Regions from separate parts of the Homo sapiens genome. Here region 1 is reported to be linked to region 2. Evidence: microRNA targets listed by miRTarBase, many of them from high-throughput screens and not tested one by one. Region 2 holds a microRNA gene; the other region holds the end of a gene's coding sequence.

Region 1 (4,181 bases), not on the chromosome of region 2:
AATATATAATATATGTTTTACATAATATATATTATATGTTTTATATAATATATAATATATATTATATATAATTATATAACTATATAACTATATAATATATATTATATATTATCTTATATATTAGATAATAAATAAGATAATATATATTAGATAATATATTAGATAATATATAAGATATATATTAGATAATATAATATATTATCATATATATAATATAATACAATATAATATATTATATATTATATAATATATAATATAATATAATATAATATAATATATATTATATTATATTATATAACATATATATTATTATATAATATAATATATTATATATTATTATATTATATATTATTATATAACATATAATATATTATATAATATATAATAATATATAATATATATTATATTATTAATATTATATATTATATAATATAATATATATAATATAATATATATGTTATATATATTATATATAATTAATATATAATAATATATAATATAATATAATATATAATATATTATATATTATATATTTATTATTTATATATCAAATATATTTTTATATATTTGATATATAAATATATATTTATTTATTATTTATATATAAATATATATAATATATAATATATAATTATATTATATATAATTATATATATGATTATATATAATATATAATATATGTTATATATTATATAGTTATATATAACTATATATAATCTATAGTATATAATATATATATTATATATAGTATATAATATAGATTATATATATAATATATAATATAATCTATATTATATATTATATATATTTATATGTATATATTATATATATTTATATGTATATATTATATATATTTATATATTATATATATTTATATGTATATATTATATATATATTTATATATTATATATATATATTTATATATTGTTGCGGGAAGTCAGGGACCCCAAACGGAGGGACCGGCTGAAGCCATGACACAAGAATGTGGATTGTGAAGATTTTATGGACATTTATTAGTTCCCCAAATTAATACTTTTTTAATCTTATGCCTGTCTTTACTGCAATCTCTAAACATAAATTGTAAAGATTTCATGGACACTTATCACTTCCCCCATCAATACCCTTGTGATTTCCTATGCTTGTCTTTACTTTAATCTCTTAATCTTGTCAGTCGAGGAGGATGTATTTCGCCTCAGGGCTATGTGATAATTGCATTAACTGCACAAATTGTACAGCGTGTGTGTTTGAGCAATATGAAATCTGAGCACTTTGAAAAAAGAACAGGATAACAGCAATTGTTCAGGGAATAAGAGAGGTAACCTTAAACTCTGACCACCGGTGAGCCGGGCAGAACAGAGCCATATTTGTCTTCTTTCAAAAGCAAATGGGAGAAATATCGCTGAATTCTTTTTCTCAGCATGGAACATCCCTGAGAAAGAGAATGCGCACCTGGGTGTAGGTCTCTGAACTGCCCCCCCCACTGGGGCGTACCTGTCTCTTATGGTCAAGGCTGCAGAGATAAATAAACTCCAGTCTCCCATAGCGCTCCCAGGCTTATTAGGAAGAGGAAATTCCCGCCTAATAAATTTTGGTCAGACCGGTTGATCTCAAAACCCTGTCTCCTGATAAGATGTTATCAATGACAATGGTGCCTGAAACTTCATTAGCAATTTTAATTTCGCCTCCGTCCTGTGGTCCTGTGATCTCACCCTGCCTCCACTTGCCTTGCGATATTCTATTACCCTGTTAATTACTTGATGTCTGTCACCCACACCTATTTGCACACTCCCTCCCCTTTTGAAAATCCCTAATAAAAACTTGCTGGTTTTTGTGGCTTGTGGGGCATCACGGATCCTACCAATGTGTGATGTCTCCCCCGGACACCCAGTGTTAAAATTTCTCTCTTTTGTACTCTGTCCCTTTATTTCTCAAGCCAGCTGACGCTTAGGAAAAATAGAAAAGAATCTACGTGATTATCAGGGCAGGTCCCCCAATAATATATTATATGTATTTAGTATATATATATATATATATTTTTTTTTTTTTTTTTTTTCTTTAGAGGCAGTCTCGCTCTGTCGCCCAGGCTGGAGTGCAGTGGCGCAATCTTGGCTCACTGCAACCTCCACCTCCCGGGTTGATGCCTTTCTCCTGCCTCAGCCTCCCGAGTAGCTGGGACCACAGGTGCCCGCCACCACACCCGGCTAATTTTCTGTATTTTTAGTAGAGATGAAGTTTCACCGTGTTAGCTAGGATGGTCTCGATCTCCTGACCTTGTGACCTGCCCGCCTCTGCCTCCCAAAGTACTGGGATTACAGGCATGAGCTACTGTGCCTGGCCCACCGTAAGTGTGTGTGTGTGTGTGTGTGTGTACATATATATATATATATATATATATATATATATATATATATATATGTAATATATATGGCTGGGCACGGTGGCTCACGCCTGTAATCCCAGCACTTTGGGAGGCTGAGGTAGGGGGATCACTTGAGATCAGGAGTTCGAGACCAGCCTGGCCAACATGGTGAAACCCCATCTCTACTAAAAATACAAAATACTAAACATACGAAAATAGCCTCATTTATAACACAAACCCCCAATATATTATGTTACCCATGTCTCACCATGATTTCAAACACCTTTCAGATTTATTTTCAGTTCCTGATTTCTACCACTCAGACTGGGCTGGAGGAACTCTAAGAAACAGACTTCCTGCTGACCCTCCTGCGCCGACTTCTAGGCATGTCTTTGGTCCAAATGTGGGCTCCTCTTCCTCCCTCATGCAAATGAACTCTTAAAGATTAGTCCACCAAGTCTTCTAGAGAGGTCTACACAAGTCTGAATTTTAAGGTAAAAGTGGCTGAGATTTAAGTTGAGAGTCAGTGTGGCAGATTCCTGGCTCTTAAAGGTTTTTACTTTGAAGAAGATAAAATGCACGAATCCTACTAGGGCAGAAAGAGTTCACAATAGATGTTTTGGTGACAAAGCACTTGTTCTACATAGCCCAAGGGTAAATGCCAATACCTATTCAGAATGGAGCAGGGAAATTGAAAATAAATTTGAACCCTTCTAATGTAAAGCTTCTGTTTCATATCCTGGCTCTTAGCAGCTGAGTGACCTTGGGCAAGTAATATAACATTTCTGAGCCTTTATTTTCTCACCCTAAAATGGAGATAACATCAATATTGTCTCCATCACTCCGAAACCCCCTTACAGTTTGGTAAGAATTACATGAGATAAAATATGTAACTAGCACAGTACTAGCACAAAATAAGGAGTCAGTTAATATTAGTTCTTCTTCCTCCACCAGCTCAGCTCCTTTGCTCTTCCTTATCCAGGAAATACAGAAATATATGGATTCACTGTAGAAGCTGGACCCAGCTCTTCAGATGCAGCAGATGGATTGACCCACTCTGTAATGACCCAGGATGGGGCGGGTGTTCTTCTGCATGGTGACTGAGAATGTGAGCCTCAGAATGAAATGTAAGAACACCAGGCTGCAAGAGGACTGGCTGCAGCCACAAACTGCAGGTCACTGTTCACAGGTGCTCAGTAGGAAGAGAGAGAGGCTTGTGATTTTTTTTTCACCCAGATGGAAATATGCATTCATAAAATGATTTGAGCTGGGCGTGATGGCAGGCGTCTGTAATCCCAGCTACTTGGAACACTAAAGCCGGAGAAGTCCTAGAACCTGGCTGCTGATGGGTTCATTGAGCCGAGACCGTGCCATCTTAACCCAGCCTAGGGGAAAAGAACAAGACTTCATCTCAAAAAAAAAATATATATATATATATATCTACATATATGTATATCTACATATCTATATCTATATCTATATCTACATATATATCTATATATATCTAGATATATATATACTTACAGAGGTAATCTTCATATCTCTCCTTTGCCTGCAATAGGAGAAAGGAAAACGCCATGAGGATCGGATCATGCTGGGCCCTGTTGGCACAGGTCTATTATTCACTTGGTGACGTAGAAAACAACATGTCAAACAGTGATCAAGTCACTGGCCCCCCGAATGAAGCATAGACGATGTGTGTGGAAAAGGCAATGGGTTTTCATGGAATATTTAGTAAGTCCATGTTGGCTGGCAAACACAAAATTATTTTTCAAGAAGAAAAAGTTGCTACTGAGAAATATGCTCACTACCAGATAGTTTG
Region 2 (4,000 bases):
GCATATACATTTGTCAAAAATCATCAAGCTGTACACTTAAAATCTGAGCATTTTATATGTAAATTATACCTCAATTTTTAAAAACTGTGAGCCATAAAGAGCCAATGTCTTCAAAAGTAGCAAAGAAATATCAAATATGTTAAATTATCCACCCATGCTATTATATAATAAAAACTGAAAACCGGTCAGGCACAGTGGGTCATGCCTGTAATTCCAGCACTTTGGGAGGCCAAGGTGGGTGGATCATCTGAGGTCAGGAGTTCGAGACCAGCCTGATCAACATGGTGAAATCCCACCTCTACTAAAAACACAAGAATTAGCCAGGCGTGGTGGTGTGTTCCTGTAATCCCTGCTACTCAGCAGGCTGAGGCAGGAGAAACGCTTGAACCCAGGAGGCGGAGGTTGCAATGAGCTGAGATCGCACCACTGCACTCCAGCCTGGGCGAAAGAGGGAGACTCCATCTCAAAAAAAAGAGGCTGGGCATGGTGACTCATGCCTGTAATCCCAACACTTTGGGAGGCCAAGGCAAGTGGATCACCTGAGGTTAGGTTCAAGACCAGCCTGGCCAACATGGTGAAACCCCGTCTCTCCTAAAAATATAAAAATTAGCTGGGCGTGGTGGTGGGGCACCTGTAATCCCAGCTACTCAGGAGGCTGAGGCAGGAAAATCTACTAAATACAAAAAATATTAAAAATACTAAAAATACAAAAAAATAAAAAAATAAAAATTAGCCAGGCATGGTGGCAGGCACCTGTAACCCCAGCTACTCAGGAGATTGAAGCAGGAGAATCACTTGAACCTGGGAGGCAGGGGTTGCAGTGAGCCAAGACTGCACCATCCCACTCTAGCCTAGGTAACAAGAGCGAAACTCTGTCTCAAAAAAAAAAAGAAAAAAAAATATTAAAACATGATGGGAGTATTGGAAAAGCACATATTTACTGGGTGCGGTGGCTTACGCCTGTAATCCCAGCACTTTGGGAAGCTGAGGCAGGCAGATCACCTGAGGTCAGGAGTTCAAGACTAGCCCGGCCAACATGGTGAGACCCTGTCTCTACAAAAATACAAAAATTAGCTGGTCATGATGGCAGGTGCCTGTAATCCCAGCTACTCAGGAAGATTAGGCAAGAGAATCGCTTGAACCCAGGAGGCGGAGGTTGCAGTGAGCCGAGATCGCGGCATTGCACTCCAGCCTGGGCAACTGAGCAAGACACTGTTTCAAAAAAAAAAAAAAAAAGAGAAAAGAAAAGCACACATTTGGGATTGTTTCTGATATATAACTGTGGGTTTCACAGAAGTAGTTTTGGCTGCTAAAATAGAAAATGTTGATATTAGATGTTACTGTAGTACTATCAAGAGTAACTATTCACTACCACGATTATAACTGAGCAATTACATTTGGCAGACACTGAATTTAAAAAAAAAGTAGCGTTGTTAAGAACTGTTATATAGTGATCTTAGCTCATGGTTAACAAATTAAAAACTGCTTTGCTAATAAAAATTTGTAGAAAATTGGTGACATCTTAATAACTCATACCTAGGGATCTTTACACCAACAATTTTGTTATGACAATTTCAGTAGTCTGAAAAGACCGTGTATTTGTTTAAAGGTAAAGTTTGCAGCTTTTAGAGGGAAAAAAATCTTTAAAAAATCGGTGGAGCTGCTTTCTTTACACCTTCCTTTTTGACAATTCTGTAAATTATACTCCACTGTACTGACAAATAACAAAGGCAAAGGTATCAGAGTCACAAGTTCAATTTTTAAAAAATTTACATTTCCAACCATGCACGAGTAAAACATAGGTTTCCTTACCTCATCATCATCATCAGAATCATTCCCAAACACTGATGGTTTTTGCAAAACAGGGTGCAACTGCTGTGTTTTCTTTGGCAAAATAAGCCCATACCTGCATATATTTTTTTTGAAATAGAAATTAAACCTTTATGTTTAAATGTTAACAAATACATCTACTACCTCTTCCACATGAAGCTACCAAATCAAAACATGTCATAAGCTTTATGAACACGTAACAGACTGTTTTTGCTTCTCAGTGATCTCAAAATTCTAACATGCCGTAAGATTCTATAATTACTACTCTAAGTGATCATTTGTGGACACGGGCCAAACTCGAATACCATTTTTATCAAAGAAGAGAAGTAAATGAAAAGTTCAGAAATGTTTTAAGATGGCGAAGTGACAGTAACATTTAAAAAAAAAAAAAAAAAACATGTGTAGTGGAAAGTTTAGTTCATGTCCACTAAAGATTTTAAAATGCTTTCAACTATCCTTGTGGTCTAAACAGTCAAGAAAATGGCTAGATTTTTTTTCCTACTGTGTACTTACACAGTTTCTAAGAACTGACTGGATAGTGTAACTCACGAAAATTTTTAAAAGATAACTGAGAAACCCAAGTAGCCATGGGGCAAGTTCGCATTACACTTTATTAAGATCATGTGCTTTGCCTCGGAGCATCTGAGAGAACCATCCCATCAGATCCAACTCCTTTAGTTTCTCACGTTTTGGCCTTTAAGATGCGGAGATCACGGGAGGCCGCATCAAAAGTAAGGATTACACATCAAAGGTAAAACTTTCAAGTACGTACAGTATTTGTCTCTTTTGCGGCAACGTATACCCCAATTTCCTATATGCCTACCCTTTTTCTGTGGCTTCTCAGAACAATATTCCTAAAACGAGAAGGAAGGGCGGGAATCAGGACTTGAGCTTCTGCCAAGGAGAACAAGGCCCTCTAAGGAAGCCAGGAACTGTCTCTCTTCACACTGCCCCTGAGAGCATCCAAGCGGGGAGAAACTCAAGCGCGGGTTAGGAAGCAAGACTGAGGGGCCTCAGACCGAGCTTTTGGAAAATAGAAAAGTCTCGCTCTCTGCCCCTCAGCCTAACTTCCTTTATTTCCTCACAAGTTTCTCCCTCAAACTTCGGGCTTCCATCCGGGAAAATGTACGGGGGAGGGGAATCTATGTTCCTCAGGACTTCTCGTTTTTTCCCGTCTCTACCCTTGACGACACAGTCCCTTCACTTCCAGCGCATTTAAAACTCCTCGGCCAAAGATACAGTCGCCGTAGTTTCTCATCCCCCAGCCTGACCCTAACTCCCGGATCACTCACTGCCTGCCCGGAATCGCCATCTTGCTCCCGTGTCCGCTGAACGTGGCCGACGCCTCCGTGACGCTGACGCCGATGTCGTCACGTAAACTCTCGCGCGGCTTTGGGTGGCCCGGATCCTGCTTGTCGGTTGAATCGCTGGTTTGAGTCACTTCTATGGTACTGGGAATCGGATCCAGTGACCTCTGTTTTGTTTCGGAGCCCACCGGCTGCCTCAAAATCTGTAGGAGAAAGGAATGACAACGTTCTAGGCCAGTTGTTCGCAGTGTGTGGTTCTGGGACCAGCGGCATCAGCAACACCGGAGATACTGTTAAAATGACAAATTCTCGGGCCCTACCCCAAACCTGCAGAATCAGAAACTTTGGAGTGAAGCGAGTTATCTGAATTTTAACCAGCGGGTAATTCTGATAAAGTTTGAAAACCACTGCCATGGCTATCGATATTCCCCCTACCCCCTTCCAAGTGTTCACTTTAACTGGTTCAGGATAATTAGGCGAAAAATGAAAATCTGTGTATTAATAATACCTTACATAGGACCAAAATTATTATTAAAAAAAAAATTTTTTTTTTGAGACGGAGTTTCGCTCTTGTTGCCCAGGCTAGAGTGCAAAGGCGCGAACTCGGTTACCTCAACCTCCGCCTCCCGGGTTCAAGCGATTCTCCTGCCTCAGCCTCCCGAGTAGCTGGGATTACAGGCATGTGCCACCACGCCCGGCTAAGTTTGTATTTTTAGTAGAGACGGGGTTTCTCCATGTTGGTCAGGCTGGTCTCGAACTCCCGACCTCGGGTGATCCGCCCGACTCGGCCTCCCAAATTGCTGGGATTACAGGCATGAGCCACCGCGCCCGGCCCAAGGACCAAAATTATTAATAATACTGTT

The links. Region 2 holds the annotated microRNA hsa-miR-423-3p (AGCUCGGUCUGAGGCCCCUCAGU, at 2,833-2,855, opposite strand). A microRNA usually pairs through its seed, bases 2 to 8, with sites in the 3' UTR of a target mRNA and lowers its output. Matches are read on the target gene's strand: a 7mer-m8 pairs with bases 2 to 8, a 7mer-A1 pairs with bases 2 to 7 and ends in A, and an 8mer does both.
Region 1: the mRNA of C22orf42 is a reported target of hsa-miR-423-3p. The part of its 3' UTR that is shown has no 7-base or 8-base seed match.

Annotation. Positions count from the first base shown.
Region 1 is chr22:32,145,870-32,150,050 of GRCh38, forward strand. It overlaps C22orf42 (chromosome 22 open reading frame 42), which reads right to left. Exons shown (of 9, transcript NM_001010859.3): 8 at 3,884-3,911; 9 at 3,137-3,744. The coding sequence ends at 3,671. Among named protein-coding and RNA genes, the nearest start is that of C22orf42, 11 kb to the right of the region's middle.
Region 2 is chr17:30,115,986-30,119,985 of GRCh38, reverse strand. MIR423 (microRNA 423) reads right to left here and starts at 2,907; the gene lies at 2,814-2,907. NSRP1 (nuclear speckle splicing regulatory protein 1) reads right to left here and starts at 3,170. Exons shown (of 7, transcript NM_032141.4): 1 at 3,123-3,170; 2 at 1,813-1,906. The coding sequence starts at 3,142. MIR3184 (microRNA 3184) reads left to right here and starts at 2,826; the gene lies at 2,826-2,900. RefSeq lists silencers at 2,738-2,807, 2,744-3,345 and enhancers at 3,058-3,157, 3,188-3,287, 3,308-3,427, 2,460-3,659.